7 linked regions of the Homo sapiens genome follow. The protein of the gene in region 2 interacts with the protein of the main gene of each other region in a biochemical or structural test. Each region holds a gene or a part of one and is shown on either strand. Other genes may lie near its edges. The genes, in order: RELN, DAB1, MAPK14, APLP1, ITSN1, CRKL and MYO6.

Evidence for each region.
Region 1: of the proteins of DAB1 (region 2) and RELN, one has a biochemical effect on the other in vitro, tested with the Homo sapiens proteins (one study listed by BioGRID).
Region 3: the proteins of DAB1 (region 2) and MAPK14 form a complex in vitro, tested with the Homo sapiens proteins (one study listed by BioGRID).
Region 4: the proteins of DAB1 (region 2) and APLP1 form a complex in vitro, tested with the Homo sapiens proteins (one study listed by BioGRID).
Region 5: the proteins of DAB1 (region 2) and ITSN1 form a complex in vitro, tested with the Homo sapiens proteins (one study listed by BioGRID).
Region 6: the proteins of DAB1 (region 2) and CRKL form a complex in vitro, tested with the Homo sapiens proteins (one study listed by BioGRID).
Region 7: the proteins of DAB1 (region 2) and MYO6 form a complex in vitro, tested with the Homo sapiens proteins (one study listed by BioGRID).

The regions. Positions count from the first base shown.
Region 1 is NC_000007.14:103,979,659-103,983,158, forward strand, and holds part of RELN (reelin isoform a precursor), read right to left. Parts: intron 1-3,500. UniProt on the Homo sapiens protein: Extracellular matrix serine protease secreted by pioneer neurons that plays a role in layering of neurons in the cerebral cortex and cerebellum by coordinating cell positioning during neurodevelopment.
Region 2 is NC_000001.11:57,008,061-57,011,560, reverse strand, and holds part of DAB1 (disabled homolog 1), read left to right. Parts: exon of another isoform or gene 1-288; coding exon 289-416; exon of another isoform or gene 417-770; coding exon 771-866; 3' UTR 867-881; exon of another isoform or gene 882-3,500. UniProt on the Homo sapiens protein: Signaling adapter of the reelin-mediated signaling pathway, which regulates the migration and differentiation of postmitotic neurons during brain development.
Region 3 is NC_000006.12:36,107,808-36,111,736, forward strand, and holds the end of MAPK14 (mitogen-activated protein kinase 14), read left to right. Parts: intron 1-572; coding exon 573-640; 3' UTR 641-3,429; downstream 3,430-3,929. UniProt on the Homo sapiens protein: Serine/threonine kinase which acts as an essential component of the MAP kinase signal transduction pathway.
Region 4 is NC_000019.10:35,871,574-35,875,073, forward strand, and holds part of APLP1 (amyloid beta precursor like protein 1 isoform 1 precursor), read left to right. Parts: intron 1-38; coding exon 39-172; intron 173-284; coding exon 285-463; intron 464-909; coding exon 910-1,040; intron 1,041-2,065; coding exon 2,066-2,140; intron 2,141-2,930; coding exon 2,931-3,089; intron 3,090-3,167; coding exon 3,168-3,296; intron 3,297-3,500. UniProt on the Homo sapiens protein: May play a role in postsynaptic function. The C-terminal gamma-secretase processed fragment, ALID1, activates transcription activation through APBB1 (Fe65) binding. Couples to JIP signal transduction through C-terminal binding.
Region 5 is NC_000021.9:33,887,001-33,890,500, forward strand, and holds part of ITSN1 (intersectin-1), read left to right. Parts: intron 1-1,151; coding exon 1,152-1,300; 3' UTR 1,301-3,500. UniProt on the Homo sapiens protein: Adapter protein that provides a link between the endocytic membrane traffic and the actin assembly machinery. Acts as a guanine nucleotide exchange factor (GEF) for CDC42, and thereby stimulates actin nucleation mediated by WASL and the ARP2/3 complex.
Region 6 is NC_000022.11:20,927,407-20,930,906, reverse strand, and holds part of CRKL (crk-like protein), read right to left. Parts: intron 1-3,500. UniProt on the Homo sapiens protein: May mediate the transduction of intracellular signals.
Region 7 is NC_000006.12:75,752,239-75,755,738, reverse strand, and holds part of MYO6 (unconventional myosin-VI), read right to left. Parts: intron 1-3,500. UniProt on the Homo sapiens protein: Myosins are actin-based motor molecules with ATPase activity. Unconventional myosins serve in intracellular movements. Myosin 6 is a reverse-direction motor protein that moves towards the minus-end of actin filaments.

The sequences.
Region 1 (3,500 bases), on a different chromosome or scaffold from region 2:
TTCTACCGTGTGCCACATCATTCAGTTTCACAGGCTGTGCCTGCAGACTAACAACATTTACTGGAATTTCCTAAAGAGAGGAATATACAATAGATGAACTTCAATAAATATCTTTAAAATGTCCCTCCCCACCTACATTTTTCAATTCTCTTATATTCAAATCCTATATAAGTTCTATTAGTGTGTGAGAGAACACGTTTCTTCATTACTTAAAATTTTTTGGCCAGGCGCGATGGCTCACACCTGTAATCCCAGCACTTTGGGAGGCCGAGGTGGGCTGATCACCTGAGGTCGGGAGTGCGAGACCAACCTGACCAACATGGAGAAACCCTGTCTCTACTAAAAATACAAAATTAGCTGGGTGTGGTGGCGCATGCCTATAATCCCAGCTACTCAGGAGGCTGAGGCAGGAGACTTGCTTGAATCAGGAGGCGGAGGTTTCGTTGACGGAAGATCATGCCATTGCACTCCAGCCTGGACAACAAGAGCGAAACTCTGTCTCCAAAAAAAAAAAAAAATTCTTAATAAAAATTATATTATCAAAATATTAAAAATAAATTTTAAAAAGGTTGTAAATCACTTTTTTTGTATTTTTATGTGTCATTATATTTTGAAGGCATGTTAACTCTTTCAGGCCAACAGTATACTAGGTGATTGCTTTGTGCTTTACCTGGGAGACAATGTCTGGTCAAAGAATTATGGACTTATGGGTACGAAATTCCAGCTTTGTTTAGCATAGATATCAGCTTTCTGGTTTGATTTTGCAATCTCTATTTTAAATAATAAAATTAGCTTTTACTTTTCTTTGTTTTCTCATTTTTGAGATTAGTTTTATTATTTATTATTATTTTCCTTTTCTGAAATAACCACCATTTTGAAAAATAAATGCGTACTATCTAAAAGGATGGATTCTGGAGAACTACACAGCAGCTTTGCCATCTTGGGCAAAACACTAACCTCTCTGTGACTCAGTTTATGCACGCATAAAATGAGAATAACAGTACCTTCCTCATGAGGATTTTGTGAAAATTACATGAATTAATATGTGTAAAGCATTTAGCTCAGTGCCTGGCACATATTAAGTGCTACTTTAGGGTTTGCTATTGTCACTGTCATAATTCATTCATTCAGGAGTCTTTGAGTTGCCTTTTTTTTCAGGTAATATTAGTGCTTGAAATTGGAGTGTAAATCCACTTTTTCTAAGAGCTTAGAACCAACCAATTTCCTCATATTCCTCCATCACACACACTGGACATATAACATTATTTGCAGGATGAGAATACAGGAAGTGTTTATTAAAGAAAAGGAAATGTGAAAAGAACTGGAACTATGATCATAACATATCTCAACATTCACAACAAAGGTGACCCAAACAAAGAGATTACATGTTCCTGAAGGTAAGACTCAGATGTCTGTTTCCTATGTCAATATGTAATAAGCAAAAGGAATGACAAACTTGGATATAGTCCTAGAGGCTGAGCCAGATGTGACAAACAAGGTTAAGGATGGGGCAGAGCTCACATTCACAACCATGTCACACGTCTAGATGTTTTAAATGTCAACAGGATTTACATATGGTGACACTGCATTTTAGAGAGATAGTGTCAGGAAATAAAGTTAGGTGAAGGAAACGAACAAGCAAAAATTATCAGTATATAAGAGGTCAGGCACAGGTTACCTTCTCAAAGCATAATTAGAAAAGCTAACATAAAATGCACTATCTTTGCCACCTGTAAAAGTAGCATACCTTAAGGGATATTTTGAAAATATATTGTCAAAAATTTCCTAGGAAACACCTCAGTTTTATCAAGGTTACCAAAACCAACTCTATGAGAGGATCAGAGCAATTCAGAGCTTGATACAGGAATTATGACTGACCTAAAAGCAAATGTTAACTGGGACATCTGTGTGTTTAGATGAAATACATATTAATTAGGATTGCATTCAGCTACAAGTAACAGAAACAACTTAATTTTTCTCACAATACAAGAAGTCCCGTCATTATTTCAGGGCTGGCATAGCTGCCTGAAGATATAAAGGAGGACCCAGCTCCCTCTAAAGTTTTGTTCCACCATCATTGGCATGTGGCCATTATCCTCAAGGTCACAAGATGGTTGTATCATCTCCGAGCTAGAATAGGCAAGGTTAGGGCAAAAAGTGCGTGCCTGCTGAGTCTTTTATAAAATATTCTTTATCAGTTTTATCAAGAGTCTTCCCAAAGACTCTGACTGGGTGCAGTGGCTCATGCCTGTTATCCTAGCATTTTGGGAGGCCAAGGCAGGTGGACCATCTGAGGTCAACAGTTCAAGACCAGCCTGGCCAACACGGCAAAACCCTGTCTCTAGTAAAAACACAAAAATTACCTGGTCTAGTGGTGTGCACCTGTAGTCCCAGCTATTCAGAAGGCTGCGGCACGAGAATCGCCTGAACCCAGGAGGTGGAGGTTACAGTGAGCCGAAAAGGTGTCACTGCACTCCAGCCTGGGCGACACTGAGACTCTGCCTCAATAATAATAATAAAAAGAACCTTCCCAAAGACCCTAATCAACAGATTTTCACTTCATATCGCTGAATTATACCGCCAATAAATGGCAGAGCAAGATATGAACACGGGTCTATCTTCAGCATCCAGTTAAAAAATACTCACCTCCATGGCTCCCTTGCAGCTCCATGTAATTCAGCGATATGAAGAAATTCTATGGGAGGACCACAGCAATTCAGAGCTTGATACAAGAATTATGACCGACCTAAATAGTTGATAATAAATGTACTGATTTGTTTTCATATTACTATCAGTAAGAAGAGAAAAAAGGTGTAGAGATGGCAATGGGGGAAACCTGAAGGGAAGAAAGTGAAAGAATTTAAAAAGAAAAAGAACAAAGTGGTGAAGCAGAAAGGAGAAAGGAAGAGGAGAGGGAAAGCAAGGACCATGGCATGGAGTCAAAGGAAGCAAAGGAGGAAAGACAAAGATAAAATTTAGAGAGAGGAAGAGAAGATGAGATACAGTGGGAAGGAGATGGGAAAGGCAGAGAGAGAGGACTAAGGTGACCTTAGTCCTTATGGTCTACTGTCACTCCTTTTCAGGTCACTTGGTTTGTGGGCACCAGTGGACATCAATAATCGGTGCTATCTATAACATGTCACCTTTCCTATCATGTAAGAGTATTTTAATCAATAATTTTCTTTTTAAACTGGGTCTCACTTCGTTGCTCAGGCTGGTCTTGAAATCCTGGGCTCAAGTGATCCTCCTGTCTCAGTCTCCAAAGTAGCTAGGATCACAAGCATATGCCACTGTGCCTAGCTATAATAAAATTTTATTTTGTTTTCAACATAAAGTTTTATTTTGTTAAGGAAAGCTAATTCAGCATTAAAGGATAACCTGCATTTTAAACATTTACTTTGAAAACTCAGAACGCTTGTAACTATTTCTTAGTGGGATTCAATGCTATCTAATTATCTTAGCTTTGTTTTTTATTTTGAGTGATTTAGGGCTGCCTTATA
Region 2 (3,500 bases):
TTCTAACAAATTCCCAGATGCTACTGCTGCTGCTTGTCCAAGGACCATCCTTTGAGAACCACTGCCTTACCTATCAGTGTGGACGAGCTCCTTCCTGAAGTCAGATGTGTGAGAGGAAAGATCAATACGTACAGAGAGAGAATTCAAATATTCAACTGATTCCACTGGAAATAGGAAGAGGAATCCTAAGATTTGACTTCAATATAAGCAGATTCCTGAGGTTTCTTTGGGATACATTCATGGCAGCCAGGCACTTAAGATGTCTCTTTTTCTGTGGTCTCTGTGTAGCTCCAACCCCAGCCCCTAGACAGAGCTCTCCATCCAAATCATCTGCATCCCATGCCAGTGATCCTACCACAGATGACATCTTTGAAGAGGGCTTTGAAAGTCCCAGCAAAAGCGAAGAGCAAGAAGCTGTAAGTGACCAGTTTGTTATTTGTTTGTGTTTTTCCTTAAAATTAAGACCTCTGTAACTGAAATGGATAATGCATGAGGAAGCCTACATAGAAAAGAATGCTGGCTCAATCTCATAAGTTCTCAAGGGGTTGCTAAAGGGGCTTTCTTTTGTGTTCAAATGAGTCAGCTGAAAAGGACTGCCTTTTTATTAAATTGTTACTACAAGTCCACATTTGTGGTGTAGCATCCTCTAAATGCCGTTGCACCCTCCTTTACAATAACTGATTGTGCTGCATGAAAGTATATCCAGGTGTCTTATATTTTCAATGCTTGAAAAGAGAGAAAAAAAAAAGTATTATCTTCTTGTGTTCTAGCCTGATGGATCACAGGCCTCATCCAACAGTGATCCATTTGGTGAGCCCAGTGGGGAGCCCAGTGGTGATAATATAAGTCCACAGGCCGGTAGCTAGATAGCGCAGGTCTGGGTAGGTATCTGTCCTTTTTATCTCCTTTACCCTTAAGCTATCTGCTTTCCCTTTTGGTTGTTCTTCACTTCTGAAGCCACATCCTCAATGTTTGCACCATGTCTCCTTGCCTGAGCTGTATTGCTGATGTTTGCACCATCGCTCCTTCCCTGAACTGTATTCCTGATGTTTGCACTATTTCTTCTTGCCTGAGCTATATCACCAGTGTCTGCACCATGTCCCTTTGCCTGGTGTCTACGTTCTACTTTGCCTTTTCTCATGGATGCATGACCTTTGACATATCCTGGGAGGTAGGGGTAGGGGTGAGAAGTGGGAACTGATCATATTATTTTATTAATAATATGTTCTGCGTGGTTGGTGGTGATAGAATGAGGCATGGTCCATGCTACTTAGCATGCATTTAGTTTCTGGAAGCATCAACATTTTGAGATGGACACATTCTGCCCACCCTGATAATTTCTCAGTGAGCCATGGTCCAGATGCTTTAATCTTTTAAGCAAAATGTCACTGCATTTGCCTACAGTCTGCAGATCTAAAGAGGTCACCAATCAAACACACAGAGAAGCCAGACTAAGAAGCAAAAACAAGCAGTGCTTGAAATAAGATTGATCGAGATGTAAGATCAGAGGAAGCCCTTTTCGTCTAGCCAGAAAGGACCCTGCACCCTGCATCCTTTCTGATGTGAAATTCAAAGCCCAGAGATGTGTAGCACTCACTTCTGAGGCTGTGCTGTTTGCACCTGTGCTGCAGCATGTGGATTGCCACCAAATCACTTCAGATTCCATCAGCAGCTACTTTGAGAGAGATGTACTTACATTTACTAGAAGTGGCTTTTGGCACTTGAATTTCAATACATCTGATTTGATCGAAAGAAAGAGGAGCTGATGAAGCAAACCTTCTTAGGAGACAGAAGTACACCTTGTTACCCAGACATGATTTCTAAGGTCACTTCTTGACAAACGTGTTCAATTTTCAGATACCTTCTTAGTTTTCTATAAACACACAGGACTGCAAGGCCATTCCCAAAAGGCTCCTTTTTTAAGTTCTGAACAGCATGGTCAAAACCATTAAAATGGTAAACAGTTTTCTCCACTCATAAATGGATTCGGAGGCTACCTCATAAATGGATTCTGAGGCTACCTCAGAATTAGTCTTAGCCCACACGTAAGTTAGACAGTTACTGAAAGCTAATATGGTATTTTGAAAGTGTATTTTGTTAACAGGTATTTTTATTAAAGAACCTAACACACTGTGTAGGTTGCCACATTTTGTATCAGTGCAATAGCACATAATAATATGTCATGCCATGCAAAACCACCTACGATTCACTTAGAAGTTCACTCTTGCAAAGCTACTTCGGGAGTTGATATATTGAAAGCAAAGTCAATGTTTCAGGAAAAAGAAAAGTTGGGGACTATAGGCAGACTCCTTGGGATGATTCCCCACGAGGTATTTTACCCCCCGCCTAAGTTGTATTTCACGTGCTCAACCTTGCCTTGAAAAATTTGGTGAATAAACTAGAGGTGACAAGAGCCATTCATCAGGATAACAGCAAACATCATCCTAAAATTGAAGTTCTTCTAGAAAACAAAGATGACTTACACCATTTGCAGATCAATGTATTAAACCCTCATCTTTATGAACCTGTTCAGCTTGAGACAATCCTACAAGCCAAACTGTTTCATGGGGCTTTGGTCTGTTCCACATTTAATGCTCTGTCCAGTACCCCAAGCCACAGCTGAGCTGTAAATGGACATAGCATAGTAGTGTGGGAAGAACTCAGGATTTGGACTTGAGTTTAAATCCTAACTCAGCTACTTAATAGTGGGAAATCTTGGGCAAGAACCAAAATTTGAGTCTTGGTTTCTTCATCTGCTAGAAGGGGCTTATATTCTCCATAATGGTAACTGAGATAGTTTATGTTGAGTATCTAGCGCAGAGACAGACACTGAGTAATCAGCTTAAAATTCAGCTTAAAAAAAATATCTAGGTTCTGGAACAACATTGTTTGAGTTCAGCATCTGGCTCCACCACTTCCTGGCTATGTGACACTGCTGTGATTTTATAATTATTCTCTATCTTATTTTCTTCATTTGAAAAATAAGGATAAAAATAGTGTCCACCTCATAGGGTTATTATGTGAACTAAATAAAGTGATATATGTGAAGCTCTTAGCACTGTGTATAGCACATAGAAAGCACCTAATAGATGCTAGCTACCCTCATCATCACCATCACCATCATCATTATCATCATCATTATCATCATCACATATATCCAATTAATGCACGCTCCCCACTCTCTTGGATTTTATACATTTAGCTTTCATGTATAAGACCATTGGTTGGGAGGTTTTGCTTTGTACTTTGTCTTCAGATAATTAATTTTCAATATGTGTCACAACAGCTTTGGAAGGGAAAAAAAGAAAAAAGCCTGCTGCTTAGCTCTCTGGCTTGCCCCACCCCATAATCAGAATGGCCCTGGTTTGGGCCTCACACAGCTCACTGCCAAAAAATGGGCTGTCTTAGAATCACATGCAAGTCAAAATAAGTACCTCCCAGCTCCAGAGGAGGGCTGGACTGTAATCTTCGGTGAAGTAATTTTCTCCCTTTGAAAGCTT
Region 3 (3,929 bases), on a different chromosome or scaffold from region 2:
CTTATGTCTGGTCTGATTTTATGCACAGCCCCTCACATAGGAGTTTTGCATGGAGAGTTGAGGTTTTCAGAGTCATTGCATTTACAACATCTCTCTGAGCTTTTACAGTTTTACAATTAGTAGAACTGGGGCAAAGAGAATTTATGTCTTATCAGTTAACTTAGAACTAGTTAGGGACATAGCCAGGAATGGAACCCATGTATCCTGTGTCCAGTCCCATATTCTTTCCACAAAACACAAGTTCAGAACTCTAGTTAAATCCCAAGAGCCAAGACCATCTGTTGCTGTAGCTTGTGAGAGTGCTCTTTCATTCTTGAGCACCTCCGTAGAGAGCTTAAAAGAAGAGGCACTCAGCGATGAAAAACATGAGAAAAAAAATGGTTCTTTTCTATGTCCCTTGAACTTCTGTGTGATAACGTGTTCCAGTAGGCTATTACATACAAGCTGTGAGGTAGCCCATCAAACCACTACCTGGACAGAGAGGAAGGATCTTGAGCTTAGAAGTCAGAGTGCTTGCCAGCAAAGAGAATAGCCTAAACTCTCACATCTTACTTTTCCTTCCCAATTTCTAGGCCTGACCTATGATGAAGTCATCAGCTTTGTGCCACCACCCCTTGACCAAGAAGAGATGGAGTCCTGAGCACCTGGTTTCTGTTCTGTTGATCCCACTTCACTGTGAGGGGAAGGCCTTTTCACGGGAACTCTCCAAATATTATTCAAGTGCCTCTTGTTGCAGAGATTTCCTCCATGGTGGAAGGGGGTGTGCGTGCGTGTGCGTGCGTGTTAGTGTGTGTGCATGTGTGTGTCTGTCTTTGTGGGAGGGTAAGACAATATGAACAAACTATGATCACAGTGACTTTACAGGAGGTTGTGGATGCTCCAGGGCAGCCTCCACCTTGCTCTTCTTTCTGAGAGTTGGCTCAGGCAGACAAGAGCTGCTGTCCTTTTAGGAATATGTTCAATGCAAAGTAAAAAAATATGAATTGTCCCCAATCCCGGTCATGCTTTTGCCACTTTGGCTTCTCCTGTGACCCCACCTTGACGGTGGGGCGTAGACTTGACAACATCCCACAGTGGCACGGAGAGAAGGCCCATACCTTCTGGTTGCTTCAGACCTGACACCGTCCCTCAGTGATACGTACAGCCAAAAAGGACCAACTGGCTTCTGTGCACTAGCCTGTGATTAACTTGCTTAGTATGGTTCTCAGATCTTGACAGTATATTTGAAACTGTAAATATGTTTGTGCCTTAAAAGGAGAGAAGAAAGTGTAGATAGTTAAAAGACTGCAGCTGCTGAAGTTCTGAGCCGGGCAAGTCGAGAGGGCTGTTGGACAGCTGCTTGTGGGCCCGGAGTAATCAGGCAGCCTTCATAGGCGGTCATGTGTGCATGTGAGCACATGCGTATATGTGCGTCTCTCTTTCTCCCTCACCCCCAGGTGTTGCCATTTCTCTGCTTACCCTTCACCTTTGGTGCAGAGGTTTCTTGAATATCTGCCCCAGTAGTCAGAAGCAGGTTCTTGATGTCATGTACTTCCTGTGTACTCTTTATTTCTAGCAGAGTGAGGATGTGTTTTGCACGTCTTGCTATTTGAGCATGCACAGCTGCTTGTCCTGCTCTCTTCAGGAGGCCCTGGTGTCAGGCAGGTTTGCCAGTGAAGACTTCTTGGGTAGTTTAGATCCCATGTCACCTCAGCTGATATTATGGCAAGTGATATCACCTCTCTTCAGCCCCTAGTGCTATTCTGTGTTGAACACAATTGATACTTCAGGTGCTTTTGATGTGAAAATCATGAAAAGAGGAACAGGTGGATGTATAGCATTTTTATTCATGCCATCTGTTTTCAACCAACTATTTTTGAGGAATTATCATGGGAAAAGACCAGGGCTTTTCCCAGGAATATCCCAAACTTCGGAAACAAGTTATTCTCTTCACTCCCAATAACTAATGCTAAGAAATGCTGAAAATCAAAGTAAAAAATTAAAGCCCATAAGGCCAGAAACTCCTTTTGCTGTCTTTCTCTAAATATGATTACTTTAAAATAAAAAAGTAACAAGGTGTCTTTTCCACTCCTATGGAAAAGGGTCTTCTTGGCAGCTTAACATTGACTTCTTGGTTTGGGGAGAAATAAATTTTGTTTCAGAATTTTGTATATTGTAGGAATCCTTTGAGAATGTGATTCCTTTTGATGGGGAGAAAGGGCAAATTATTTTAATATTTTGTATTTTCAACTTTATAAAGATAAAATATCCTCAGGGGTGGAGAAGTGTCGTTTTCATAACTTGCTGAATTTCAGGCATTTTGTTCTACATGAGGACTCATATATTTAAGCCTTTTGTGTAATAAGAAAGTATAAAGTCACTTCCAGTGTTGGCTGTGTGACAGAATCTTGTATTTGGGCCAAGGTGTTTCCATTTCTCAATCAGTGCAGTGATACATGTACTCCAGAGGGACAGGGTGGACCCCCTGAGTCAACTGGAGCAAGAAGGAAGGAGGCAGACTGATGGCGATTCCCTCTCACCCGGGACTCTCCCCCTTTCAAGGAAAGTGAACCTTTAAAGTAAAGGCCTCATCTCCTTTATTGCAGTTCAAATCCTCACCATCCACAGCAAGATGAATTTTATCAGCCATGTTTGGTTGTAAATGCTCGTGTGATTTCCTACAGAAATACTGCTCTGAATATTTTGTAATAAAGGTCTTTGCACATGTGACCACATACGTGTTAGGAGGCTGCATGCTCTGGAAGCCTGGACTCTAAGCTGGAGCTCTTGGAAGAGCTCTTCGGTTTCTGAGCATAATGCTCCCATCTCCTGATTTCTCTGAACAGAAAACAAAAGAGAGAATGAGGGAAATTGCTATTTTATTTGTATTCATGAACTTGGCTGTAATCAGTTATGCCGTATAGGATGTCAGACAATACCACTGGTTAAAATAAAGCCTATTTTTCAAATTTAGTGAGTTTCTCAAGTTTATTATATTTTTCTCTTGTTTTTATTTAATGCACAATATGGCATTATATCAATATCCTTTAAACTGTGACCTGGCATACTTGTCTGACAGATCTTAATACTACTCCTAACATTTAGAAAATGTTGATAAAGCTTCTTAGTTGTACATTTTTTGGTGAAGAGTATCCAGGTCTTTGCTGTGGATGGGTAAAGCAAAGAGCAAATGAACGAAGTATTAAGCATTGGGGCCTGTCTTATCTACACTCGAGTGTAAGAGTGGCCGAAATGACAGGGCTCAGCAGACTGTGGCCTGAGGGCCAAATCTGGCCCACCACCTGTTTGGTGTAGCCTGCTAAGAATGGCTTTTACATTTTTAAATGGTTGGGAAAGAAAAAAAAAGAAGTAGTAGATTTTGTAGCATGTGATGTAAGTAATGTAAAACTTAAATTCCAGTATCCATAAATAAAGTTTTATGAGAACAGAGCCGCACTCATCTGTTTATGTATTGTCTGTGGCTGCTTTTGTGCTACAGTGACAGAGGCAAATAGTTGCAGCAGAGACTATAGGACCTCCAAAATGTCAACCATTTACCATCTGGCCCTTTAGAGAAGTCTGCTGACCCTTGGCCCAGGGCTACAGTTTTCTCATCTATAAAGTGAAGTTCAGGTTTTTTTCATCTTTGACATTTGAGACTATCTATAAGCCATATATTTTTATTATAAAACTGCCAGAGAGAAGGTTTGGTTTGTATATATAGGTGTACATTGTTTGTAAGCTTTTAGGCGAATGTATTTTATGACTCTGTTTTGTCTTAGCTGGCTACGGTCCTTGAAAATATTCTTCAGAATGACTGAATTGCATCACGGGATGAAAGAGCCACGGGGTCTCACAGCTGAGTTCTCAGGGACTTTGCTGATGTGCTTCCTTTCTTGGTGTCCTTGGAATGACACCCAGCAGGTGTCCCAGGGTGGATTGTGGGGCTC
Region 4 (3,500 bases), on a different chromosome or scaffold from region 2:
TCCCACAATCCTGGCATCTGGGCCCACTCTTCCTACAGGCCTGCAGCTCCCAGGGCCTCATCCTGCACGGCTCGGGCATGCTCTTACCCTGTGGCTCGGATCGGTTCCGTGGTGTGGAGTATGTGTGCTGTCCCCCTCCAGGGACCCCCGACCCATCTGGGACAGCAGTTGGGTGAGTGGGAGGGAACCCTCCATGCCCATCTCAAGGTTCCTGAGGCAGGGGATGGAAGCCTGGGAGCCCAGGCCTGGGTTCTTACTGCCTGGGTCCTCTCCTGCTCCCTCAGTGACCCCTCCACCCGGTCCTGGCCCCCGGGGAGCAGAGTAGAGGGGGCTGAGGACGAGGAAGAGGAGGAATCCTTCCCACAGCCAGTAGATGATTACTTCGTGGAGCCTCCGCAGGCTGAAGAGGAAGAGGAAACGGTCCCACCCCCAAGCTCCCATACACTTGCAGTGGTCGGCAAAGGTGAGGCAGTCTCTGAACCCCTGGGGCCTCTCCACCATAGAGGGAGAAAGATCTGGGGGAGTCTTGCTGGGGGGTGTCTTTGGGAGGGGCCTATAGGGGAAAGGCCCAACTGAGGAGAAAAGACGAGAGTATCTTTGGATAAAATAGAAGTAGAAGGGCTAACCTGCCAAGGGAGGGGGTGGTTTGGGGGTACTTGGGAGTAGAGGGGCCATTGGGTAGGTCTTGAGGATCATTTCAGGAAAGCTTGGAAGATGGTGTAATGGATTCCTAAGCTTTGCAAGAACAGGCCCAGTCCAGAACTACATCTCCCATAATGCCAGGCAGCAGCGGTGGCTAAACTGGGTGCATGATGGTCTCCAGTGCACTCTAGGAAATGTGGTTCTCTAGGTAGAAAAGGCGACCTGGAGGTGGGCTGCAGACTGACCTCCTGATCCCTGGTCTTGCAGTCACTCCCACCCCGAGGCCCACAGACGGTGTGGATATTTACTTTGGCATGCCTGGGGAAATCAGTGAGCACGAGGGGTTCCTGAGGGCCAAGATGGACCTGGAGGAGCGTAGGATGCGCCAGATTAATGAGGTGATAATACTGGGGGCCCCAGGACCCCCTACAGTACAGAGCTCCCTAAATACCAGGAAATTCCTCCAGGACACATTGATACTACCTCCAAAGGCTCCCTAAGCCCCTTTGACCTTGAGCTCTCAACACCACCCCCTAAGATGGCCAGAGATCCATGGCCCTTCTAGAATCCCACTGAGACGCTACCAGGTTCTCTGGAAACTCTGGTCTATGGTACTCTTTCACTTTATTGGTTTTTTTTTTTTTCTTTTGTTGTTGTTGTTGTGACGGAGTTTCGCTCTTAACACCCAGGCTGGAGTGCAATGGTGCGATCTCGGCCCACTGCAACCTCTGCCTCCCGGGCTCCAGCGATTCCCCTTCCTCAGTCTCCTGAGTAGCTGGGATTACAGGCACCCACCACCACGCCCGGCTAATTTTTGTATTTTTAGTAGAGACAGGGTTTCACCATGTTGGCCAGGATGGTCTTGAACTCCCGGCGGGAGGAGATCCACCCGCCTCGGCCTCCCAAAGTGCTGGGATTACAGGCATGAGCCACCACGCCTGGCCTCTCTTTCACTTTAAACTCCTTCTGGATCTTCCCTCTTGGGAACCCAGGAGCCAGCGAGACTTAAGGGATCTGGGGCCTTTAAATCTTTTTTTTTTTTTTTTTTTGAGACAGAGTTTCGCTCTGTTGCCCAGGCTAGAGTGCAGTGACGTGATCTCCCACTCACTGCAAGCTCCACCTCCTGGGTTCACGCCATTCTCCTGCCTCAGCCTCCCGAGTAGCTGGGACTACTGGTACCCACCACAGCGCCCAGATAATTTTTTCTGTTTTCAGTAGAGACAGGGTTTCACCATGTTAGCCAGGATGGCCTCAATCTCCTGACCTTGTGATCCACCCACCTCGGCCTCCCAAAGTGCTGGGATTACAGGCATGAGCCACTGCGCCCAGCCATGGGGCTTCTAAAATCTTAAAGAGGGGTTGGGGGACTTGCCAGGTGGATCAGGGTGGATTCTGGGATCCTGAAGCTCCCCTCCCTATGCAGGTGATGCGTGAATGGGCCATGGCAGACAACCAGTCCAAGAACCTGCCTAAAGCCGACAGACAGGCCCTGAATGAGGTAGGACAGCCCCAGTGGGTCCTACTCATGCCTGTCCACCACCTGGAGCACACTCAGTTTCACCTGGCTCTGGCTGTGCCCTGCCCATCCAGTTCCACCCCTTCCCACCTATCTCAGCCTTTCCTGGCCCCATGCCTACATGCAGCTCTGCCCCTCTTAGCCGTCATCTGACCTGACACTGCTCTCCTCCCCAGATTGGCCATATTCGGCCCCATCTACAGACTTGACTTGCCTCTCAGGGCTGGCTCTGGAGTCCTGTCCCAAGCCAGGGCCTCTGCAGATGCAGCCAGGGCCTTCTTGGTCTCTCTTTGATGCATTTATGTCTCTATCAGGCCCCGCCCCCTGATTCTGGCTCTGCTGGGCCAATCTCACCTTTATTAACCTGACCTACCCCATGGAGACCCCACTCATGTTAGCCCCCATTCCAGCTCTTTGTCCCACCCCTATCGTGTCATTTATACACAGCCTGTCTCCAGTTTGACCCTGCCCAGGCCAGGAGCCCTGCAAGGCTTTGTCCCTTTCACCTTAACATTGGTCAGTTCTGCTCCCAGATTGCTCCCACTCAATCTTACAGTTTACATCCTCACATTGGCTCCCAGTGGGCCTAGTCCCACCTCCACTCTGCCTGGCCCTGTAGCCCACCCCTTCCAGTCCATAACCTTTGGTTCTGCCCAGGCCTGGACCCCTGGAACGCCCCCCAACCCCATGTAGCCCTGCCTTTCCAGGCTCTCTTTGACCAGGCTTTGACCCATCTTCTCCTCTCCTGACCCTGTGCCCACCCGCTCCCCAGCACTTCCAGTCCATTCTGCAGACTCTGGAGGAGCAGGTGTCTGGTGAGCGACAGCGCCTGGTGGAAACCCACGCCACCCGCGTCATCGCCCTTATCAACGACCAGCGCCGGGCTGCCTTGGAGGGCTTCCTGGCAGCCCTGCAGGCAGATCCGCCTCAGGTGCGGGGACCGTGGGGGCAGAGAGCAGAGGGTGAGAAGGGTCAGGGCGGGCTTGGGCATCCTGTGTCCCTTCCACAGGCGGAGCGTGTCCTGTTGGCCCTGCGGCGCTACCTGCGTGCGGAGCAGAAGGAACAGAGGCACACGCTGCGCCACTACCAGCATGTGGCCGCCGTGGATCCCGAGAAGGCACAGCAGATGCGCTTCCAGGTGCTCACATCCTTCCAGCTCCCAAATGCGCCGCTATTCCTCAGACGCCCGCGCCTCAGGCTCTTCTCTTGTCCCTTAGACCCTCTTTCTGTCTCTTGGACCCCTTCCTATCCCCTGAACACCGCTTCTCTGCCCCTTCCCAGTCTCTCAGCTCAGCTTCCTGACCCTGAAACATGGACCCTCACATGCTGTGTCTTTGACCCC
Region 5 (3,500 bases), on a different chromosome or scaffold from region 2:
ACTACCTGTCTCTCCCTCAACCCAATAAAAATCACCGGTGGGCATGGTGCTGCAGGCCTGGAATCCCAACACTTTGGGAGGCTGAGGCAGGAGGATCGCTTAAGCCCAGGAGTCTAAGACCAGCCTGGGCAACATAGTGGGACCTTGTCTCTACAAAAAAATACAAAACTTAGCCAGGCATGGTGGCATGCACCTGTAGTTCCAGCTACTCGGGAGGCTGAGGCAGGAGGATTGCTTGAGCCTGGGAGGTCGAGGCTGCAGTGAGCCATGATGGTACCACTATATTCCAGCCTGGGCAACAGAGCAAGATCCTGTCTCCAAAAAAAAAAAAATCACAGAGTAAGTTAAAAGATTATGGTCTCAACTTAATTATAACCGAAGAAGTGAGGGTCAAATGCTAGCATTATCTGTACAAGGTTTAAATGGCTCCATATGGCCTTCATCTTTTAGTACTTTTTATATGAATTATCTCATTGTGAGTTAGGTACTCGTTGTGGTAGCTGGTTAAATGTTTGAGTGTGACTGGAACAGTTTGGCTCCCAAGTCTGGGCTCTTAACTACTATGTGTACTGTCAACTTCTAATTCTTTTTTCTTTTTATTTTTTTTATTTATTTATCTTTTTTCTTGTTGTTCTCGCTCTGTCACTCAGGCTGGAGCACAGTGGTGCAATCACAGCTCACTGCAGCCTCCACCTCCCAGGCTCAAGCAATCCTCCTGCCTCAGCCTCCTAAGTAGCAGGGATGACAGGCATGAACCACCATGCTAGGCTAATTTTTAAAAATTTTTTGTAGAGACAGGGTCTCACTCTATTGCCCAGGCTGGTGTCAAACTCCTGGACTCAAGTGATCCTCCTGCCTCGGCCTCCCAAAGTGCTGGGATTACAGACGCGAGCCACTGTGCCCGGCCACCTTCTAATTCTGAGAGATAAAGGTTGGGGTTGGGTTTTTTTTTTTATTTAAGTAATGAAATACCATGACACATTGGCAACTCCGCTGGGGAGCGAGTTGGAAATCCTAGTGTTGGTTTACATCAGAGCCCAGAGAAGAAGGGAGAGCATAACAGTTCATCAGGGGGTCCCCAATATGCCAGACATGTGCCTCGAAGAGAGGGAATGGTCCCTCTTAGGAGGGTCTGTTTGTTCTCTTTTCAGATTTTTTGGGTCGGACGGAGATCCGTGTGGCGGACATCAAGAAAGACCAGGGCTCCAAAGGTCCAGTTACGAAGTGTCTTCTGCTGCACGAAGTCCCCACGGGAGAGATTGTGGTCCGCTTGGACCTGCAGTTGTTTGATGAGCCGTAGGCAGCGGGCTCAGGGTGTGCTCAGCAGGGTCCCAGCCCACGGCCACACATGCTGTCTGGAAATTGTATTCCTTTTCTAAGAAACCACCATTTGGTATTCAGTCACAGGGATATGGGATGGCAAAGACAGGCCCCTCAAAGCTCCTAGGAATCATTCTCGACAATCCTCCCTGCCCCGAAACAATTTCCTGTTTCATGAAACAAAGCTGTGTTTTCCTTTGTCCTCACTACAGGTCTCATTATGGCTTCTAGGGTCGCTGAAATCCCATAGCCCTCAACAGGGTGCAGCTGGGAGTCTAGCCCCTTCCCGGGCTTGAGGGATGGGTCTGGTTACTATAAAATAGATTTATAAATGCAATGTCTATATTTTTGGAGAACTCATGTAACCCTCCTGTTTCTTACATCCACCAGTCCCCAAGTAGACTTCTTGGCCTACAATGCCCAGTCCTTGGTGTGAGTTTAGAAACAATTATGACGGTCCTGTCATTGCTTCAGAATCCCATCTCTCCTGCAGGGAAATGCTGCCTAGAGCTGATCACTCGGTGAGACGGTCTGATCAGGCCCTGGCTTAGCTCTTTGAAGAGCTGGTCTATGGAAGTTTCCAGCATGTGCACCGTTATAGCCGTTCCTTCCCCCTCTAGGCCTTGTATTAATATATGTCAATGAAAACACACTGGTGTATTGTTGCGTGGATTCAGTTCTGATTCCCAGCATGCTTAGAATATGGTCACAGAAAGTCATTATCTAGAAAGTCACCCCTCTGCTGGATCAGATCACTACAGGTCACTGGAAAGGCAACTTTACAATGTTGGGTCACTGGGTCTCGGTTGGCAGCCATGTTGGAAAAATCTCTTTTGGCTCGGAGGCCTGTGATATTTCATAGCAGCAGTCGTTGCTGGTGACCTGTTCTGTGCTTGAATGTGCTGAATCCTGATTGTTGTAGGACATTTCAACAGCTCTTTTTGGTACGTTCCCCAAAAAGCCATGTCCTAGATCCCCAAGGCGTGAAAAGGAAAAATATCAAGCTGGAGGTTGGGAAAGAAAATGAAGGCAGTCCATTATGTGGTGGGTGAAAGACCCTAGGAGGATGCAAGCCCCGCACATCCCGGGGCAAAGACCTAAGACACTTTTCCACCCTCCACCACCCCAACCTCACATAATATGCTTGTTGCAAGAGTCAGGACTTTATGACTATGTGCCAAGCTGTTTGGTTTGAGTTCTTTAATTTTTTTTTCCCTTAAATGCCAGGAGATCATCTGGTTAGTTAGATAGTAACTTGATTTGCTAATGAAAAGTGGGGGCCGTGTTTTGTTTGCATGTTAATATTCTCATAATCCTAGTTTGTTGTGGTCATGAAATGTCCTTTGCATGTTCTGTTGGTACTGGAGTCTAGCTTTCCTGTACTAGATGGTGTTCTCTTTGATTGTAGGTCCTTAGACTTTAATTAGGGTTATCAAAGTGCTTTCTAAATGATAGCATCAGCGTTGTGGCAGAGTACCTCCTTTGCTGGGAACTGAATGTGTAGTGTTATCATTTCCCATGAGAGCCCGGTCATACTTCAAGCAATTTTTTTAAAAGTGTGTGTTGGAAAGGACAACAAAGTTTACATTTCATACTTTTAAGAAATACTTTATTATTTATTTATTGAAGATAGTGTAGAATTTTGTATCAAGAACAACAGACATAAGTATTTTTTGAAACAAGCAAATATACCCTGTAGTTAGAAACTTTCAACTGAACATGTTAGAGACCAAGTTTAACTTCAGGCATGCATTTGTTTACCATTTCCCAGCAGAAAACATGGTTAAAATACTTTAAGTTTATATTTTTTGATGTTGTTAAGAAACTTTTAAATTAAATCTATAAATAGACATGCAACTCATGCTTTCCTATTTCTATAACCAACACCGTTTGTTTAGTGTATTTATGAAAGATATGCTACCATGGTAGAAAGAAAAGTATTCAATGTGTAAATGGGGTAGTGTGGGTCACCATTCCGATCTCTTTTTGTTTTCTGTCCTGTCTTTTCTTCATTGACTTTATTTGCGTGTTAATGTTGGACATCATTGTTCATGTAGGTAGCGTATGGTATGCACAATGACAAACAATCGTTTTAGGTCCCAGGTCACCCACTCATAGTGTCCTATTATTGGAATTAATGTAGCATGAGAAAGCAATATGTGACTCTTTTTCCTCAAGTG
Region 6 (3,500 bases), on a different chromosome or scaffold from region 2:
ATTGAGACCATCCTGGCTAACACGGTGAAACCCTGTCTCTCTACTAAAAATACAAAAAATTAGCCAGGTGTGGTGGCACACGCCTGTAGTCCCAGCCACTCGGGAGGCTGAGGCAGGAGAATGGTGTAAACCCGGGAGGCGGAGCTTGCAGTGAGCCAAGATCACGTCACTGCCTGAAACAGTTAAGACTCTATCTCAAAAAAAAAAAAAAAAAAAAAAAAAAAAAGCCAGGCGTGTGGTGGCTCACGCCTGTAATCCCAACACTGGGAGGCCGAGGCGGGAGGATCACTTGAGGTCAGGAGTTCAAGACCAACCTGGCCAACATGACAAAAAACCCTGTCACTACTAAAAATACAAAAGTTAGCCAGGTGTGGTGGCGTGCGCCTGTAGGCCCAGCTACTTGGGAGGCCGAGGGAAGAGAATTGCTTGAACCTGGGAGGCAGAGGTTGCAATGAGCTGAGATCACACCACTGCACTCCAGCCTGGGTGACAGAGCAAGACTCCATCTTAAAAACAAACAAAAAAAAGAAGATAGCCAAGCCCATTCATTTACGTATTGTCTATGACTGTTTTTCACTACAAAGGCATAGTTGAGTAGTTGGACAGAGACTCTATGGAAAAGCTGAAAATATTTAAAATCTGACCCTTTACTCAACAGTTTGCTGATCCCCCATCTAAATTCCTGGGTTAGGGAGGCAAAGTGTGCTTTTCAACTTCCTTGCTTCCCTGGTGAGGGGTATGTCTGTGTAGAAATTTGATAAAGATAGTTTCTATTTCCCTCCACTACTATACTGCTATAGTGACCTTGGGGCTCATTTTCTGTGTTAGTATCTGCAGAGATATTCATAAATTTGACACCAAATCAATCTCACCAGCCATAACCCTGACACAAATTCCAAGTCCTCTGCCCTATATTCTCAAACTCATTTATTCATCAAACTCCCCTGAAAATTACACATTAGTTCCACTGAAGAGATAAATACATGTTGCTCCATGTCAGATATCTTAGCCTTTCCATTAGACCCCACTGTCTAAAGAAATATGAAGCATATTCATCAGAAAATTTATTGCTTCCCAATTATTTGTTCTTTGAGCAAGGTTGAAAATAGCACCCTCCCCCAACTTCCCTTTAAAATATAAAGTGTTGCCCAGGCGCAGTGGCTCATGCCTGCAATCCTAGCACTTTGGAAGGCCGAGGCAGGTGGATCATGAGGTCAGGAGTTTGAGACCAACCTGGCCAACATGACAAAACCCTGTCACTATTAAAATACAAAAATTAGCCAGGTGTGGTGGCGTGTGCCTGTAGGCCCAGCTACTTGGGAGGCTGAGGCAAGAGAATTGCTTGAACCCGGGAGGCGGAGGTTGCAGTGAGCTGAGATCATGCCACTGCACTCCAGCCTGGGCGACAGACAGAGATTCCGTCTCAAAAAATTAAATAGATAAGGCAGGTGCAGTGGCTCACGCCTGTAATCCCAGCACTTTGGGAGGCCAAGGCGGGCGGATCAAGAGGTCAGGAGATCGAGACCATCCTGGCTAACACAGTGAAACCCCATCTCTACTAAAAATACAAAAAAATTAGCTGAGCGTGGTGGCAGGCGCCTGTAGTCCCAGCTACTCGGGAGGCTGAGGCAGGAGAATGGTGTGAACCCGGGAGGCAGAGCTTGCAGTGAGCCGAGATCGCGCCACTGCACTCCAGTCTGGGTAACAGAGTGAGACTCCGACTCAAAAATAAATAAATAAAATAAAATAAAATAAAATGCACAGGGTTTTCAAGCCCATCCAAACACCCTTGACCATGCTTCTCACTTTTTGCCTATTGTCCACTACACACTTTGAGCAGCAAAGCCCCTAACAACTAATTCGTAACTGACTTTTCTTTTCTGATGATAACGAATCTCTCAGCTCTTTTGGTTAAAAGCGTTCTCAGTTTCTACATGTATAAACCATACACAAAACATCTTTAAACCAAGTGCTAATATGTTCTAAGCTTAAAATCTCCTTATGCATGCTAAGAACCAATACAATCAACTTCTAGAAAAAGGAAGTTTCAAAGGTGCTGGTAATATTCCTTTTTTTTTTTTTTTTTTTTTTTTTGAGATGGGATCTCGTTCTGTTGCCCGAGCTAGAGTGCAGAGGCACAATCATGGCTCATTGCAGCCTCAACCTCCAAGGCTCAAGCGATCCTCCCACCTCAGCCTTCTGTGTAGCTGGGACTACAGGTGCATGCCACCACATCCGATTAATTTTTGTATTTTTGGTAGAAACAGGGTCTTGCCATGTTGTCTAAGCTGGTCTTGAACTCCTGAGCTCAAGCAATCTTCCCACCTCAGCCTCCCAAAGTCCTGGGATTACAGTCTGGGCCACCACGCCTGGCCAATGTTTTATTTATTTATTTTTTAAAGGGAGCACACAGATGATAGTTTTTTTTGGCTTGTTTTGTAAATTTTTTTGAGATAGCGTCTTGCTCTATGGCCCAGGCTGGAGTGCAGCAGTACGATCATGGCTCACTATAGCCTTGACCTCCCAGGCTCAAGTGATCCTCCCACCTCAGCCTCCCATGTAGCTGGGACTACAGGCATGAGCCACCATGCCCAGCCAATCCTTGTTTAATTTTTTGCAGAGATGGGGGTTTATGTTGCCCAGGCTGGTCTTGAACTCCTGGGCTCAAGCAATCCTCCTACCTCAGCCTCCCCACTATTTGGGACTACAGGTGCATGCCACCACACCCAGCTTACATATACTTTTTTTTTGAGACAGAGTCTCACTCTATTGCCCAGGCTGGAGTGTAGTGGTGTGATCTCAGCTCACCAAAACCTCTGCCTCCTGGGTTCAAGCTATTCTTGTGCCTAAGCCTCCCCAGTAGCTGGGATTACAGGGCCCCACTACTGCCGGGCTAATTTTGTATTTTTAACAGAGATGGGTTTCACATGCTGGCCAGGCTGGTCTTAAACTCCTGACCTCAAGTGATCTGCCTCCCTCGGCCTCCCAAAGTGCTGGGATTACAGACATGAGCCAACGTGCCCAGGCTTACTCTTTTTCCTTTTTTTTTTTTTTTTTTTTTTTTGAGACAGAGTCTTGCTCTGTTACCCAGACTGGAGTGCAATGGTGCGATCTCAACTCATTGCAACCTCCACCTCCCGGGTTCAAACAATTATCCTGCCTCAGCGTCCCAAGTAGCTGGGATTACAGGCATCTACCACCACGCCCGGCTAATTTTTGTCTTTTTAGTAGAGACAGGGTTTCACCACGTTGGCCAGGCTGGTCTCGAACTCCTGACCTCAAGTGATCCACCTGTCTTGGCTTCCCAATGTGCTGAGATTACAGGCGTGAGCCACGGCACCCTTACTCTTTTCTATGTATGAAATATTTCACAGTTAAAAAAAAAAAAAAAAAGGTAGAAAACTTAATTCCAGCTGGGCGTGGTGACTGGCTCATGCCTGTAATCCCAGCACATTAGGGGGCCGAGGCAATTGGATCACCTGAGGTCAGGAGTTTGAGAC
Region 7 (3,500 bases), on a different chromosome or scaffold from region 2:
AATAAATGAAGACATAAAGGAACCAACACAGACGCACACACAGTTCTTTAGTGAGTCTTTACAAAGACAGTTGTAACTATCGGATCACTACCAATGCACAAAGTAATAAAAGTTATTTTCAAAATTCCCCCAGAACATTTTTCTCCTTCCTTTTTTTAACTAATTGTTCTTTAAAAATTCTCCAACTAGAAAAGCTAATTACCAATTTCAGTCTAGCAATCTATTTAAAATGTTAAAGTAGTTCCATAATGATGCATCATGCTCATCTTCTATCTTCCATTAAAAAATAACCTGTAACAATTTAATAATCACCATTTTAGTGACCCTAATTTTTCAGAACTTCCTGAACCACCTGACTTGAAGCCATAATGTGAGGTTAAATACATAAGCAATAGGGGGAAAGTGGAGGACTTACTACTTTGGGACTACACAGAGATGATGCTTCTAAGTAGCCACATTGACCTTGAACAAGTTACTTAATTTTAAGTAATGTATTTATTTATTTAGAGACGGGATCTTGCTCTGTCACCCAGACTGGAGTGCAGTGGTGCAATCACAGCTCACTGCAGCCTTGACCTCTTGGGCTCAGGAGATCCTCCAACCTCAGCCTCCTACACAGCTAGCACTATAGGCGTGCACCACCACACCCAGCTAATTTTTGTATAATATTTTTTGTGAAAGGGTTTCACCATGTTGCCCAGGCTGTTCTCAAACTCCTGGGCTAAAGTGATCCTCCCAACCTCAGCCTCCCAAAGTGCTGGGATTACCGGCATGAGCCACCACATGCAGCCAGTATTTTTAATTTTTTGAGTCTCCATTTCCTTACCTGTAGAAAAGGAATAAATTTACTAAATCTACTTCATCAAGTTGTTTTAAGGACCAAATGCATACAAAAATATTTTAAAGCAATAAAATGCCATCCAAATATAAGTTATTAGCTTTTGACGTATATGTCTTTGGATTTCAAATGGATGGTTTCTATTTATTTTTTCATATCTCTGCAACTCTTCCTATTTCCTGGATCCAAAGATATGCCAGCACAGGGAGGAATCAGTTCACACTTGTCATATCTAAAACACAGTGGGCCCTCAGTAAATATCTGTTGAAAAAGATGTTCATCCACATAGATCAGAAATCAAAAAATTCTGCCACAGAAAATATATTACCTTGTAAAGGTTAGTCAGCGGCTTACTTTTTTTTTTTTTTTTTTTTTTTTTTTGAGACGGAGTCTCACTCAATCGTCCAGGCTGGACTGCAGTGGCCCAATCTCAGTGCACTGCAACTTCCACCTGCCAGGTTCAAGTGATTCTCATGCCTTGGCCTCCCAAGTAGCTGGGATTACAGGCACCCACCACCACACCCAGCTAATTTTTGTATTTTTAGTAGAGATGGGGTTTCACCACATTGCCCAGGCTGGTCTGAACTCCTGACCTCAGGTGATCCACCCACCTTGGCCTCCCAAAATGCTGTGATTACAGGTGTGAGCCACCACGCCCCAGCCAGGTTATTTTCAAATGAAATAACAAATGACCTAACATACTCAAAAGATGACTGTGTTTTTGTCAAGAGTTTCCTTTGTGCACATTACTCAGCATCATATTTACCCCATGTGAATATACACTGAAGGAATGTGCTTTGGTGTTTTGGTTTCACTTGAGACATGCCTTCTGTATAAAAAATTATTTCCTCTCTCTTTAGCACCAGCAAGATTTCTAAAGATGCCAGATTTCTTCTTTAGGTTTTACTTTTTATGCTTCAGTACTCACAGGGAAAACTTTTGGTGGACTTATGGTCATTTCTCAAACCATTATGTCATTCTTACACTAATCAATAAGAAAAATAAGCTAATTTTTGAAAACAGTAACTAGAAAGACGTTGCAAAATATTTAAAGATTCTAGTCCACTCAAATTTGTCAAATAAAATCAGAACCATTTTAAATGAAAAGATCCTGGTTCCTCTGAACATTATATAATGCCGGCAAGGCACGGTAGCTCATGCCTGTAATCCCAGTACTTTGGGAGCCCGAGGCAGCACACTATCTGAGCTCAGGAGTTCAAGACCAGCCTGGGCAACATGGCAAAACCCCTCTCCACCAGAAACACAAAAAAGTTAGCCAGGCATGGTGACATACACCTGTGGTCCCAGCTACTCCGGAGACTGAGGTGGGAGTGTCACTTGAGCCTGGGAGATGGAGGTTGCAGTAAGCCGAGATCATGCCACTGCATGTGGCATGAATGAGACTCTGTCTCCAAAAAACATATATATATATATATATATATATACACACACACACACATATATAGATCATAGATACATGCATATAGATATAATGCCTCCAAAAGAGAACTTAAGCTTATTTAACTCTACTTCTTGATGTGTGTGTCACAGATCTATTACCAATTTATATTAGTAATATTACTAATTTATATTAGGTGGTGGTTTTGTATTTACAGTTGAATATGAATATCCTTGAGATGCACAATTCCTAATAGTTCAAAGCAAATAATGAAAAAAATCCGTAATGGTAGCCACCCAACTCAGCCTTCCTACCTTGCTTCTGCTCATTTACCCAACTACATCCTACTGCTGAAATGCATGATTCCTAGTTTGTTACCAGAAAAAATGGGCTTATTTGCTCACTGTTGTCATTTATGTCTATTGCGGCTCAAGGGATATTCCACAGACCATAGAAAAGATTTGTACTAATAGTTTCTAAGTGACAATTTAATCATAATCTAAAAACGAGTCCCCCCTCTCAAGATTAGAGAATTAATTATGTAATATTTAAAGGATAGCTACTGCATAAATAATTATCTTTTTCATTAGAGGAAAATTTTAAAGTTCTATCCCAACCAGGAACATTACAATCTAATTCTAGTTCTCACAAACCTATCAAAGTTAAACACATACATATGTTTAACAGCATACATACATGCACAATACATATAATGTCCTAGAACTATACGAGAAATGAGAAAGCAGCAGCATCAGTGTTCAAGGCTGTCAACTTGAGAATGAAGACACAAACACAGGATTCTAAATTTGTTCCAGAACTACATTCACGGCCTATCATATCTACTCCTGGATGCTTTTGTCAAACCTTGAATTACATTCTTTGACATAATACCAGTTTTGCCGGTTTAAACAGTCCACCAAGTGAACTGAAACCAAGGCAAACTGTTCTGGTGGAAAAAACAGGGGCTTCGTGGTCAAATGACTCAGGTGTGAATCCAGACTTTGCCCTTCTGGAGCAAGCATTTAATTCTTTGAGACTAGACTCCCTCATCTGTAAAAGGACAAGACCATTAGCCTAGAAAATTATTTTGTAGATCAAGCCCCTCAATCTGTGATCTGTCCAATTATGGAAGATGCCTAATAAATGTGCAACAATCTTATACTAGTAAAGGGCCAGTTCACAAATTATTATGAAATATCTCATTATGGGTATCATAATTAAACTCTATGAAACTGCAATCCCAGCACTTTGGGAGGCCAAGGC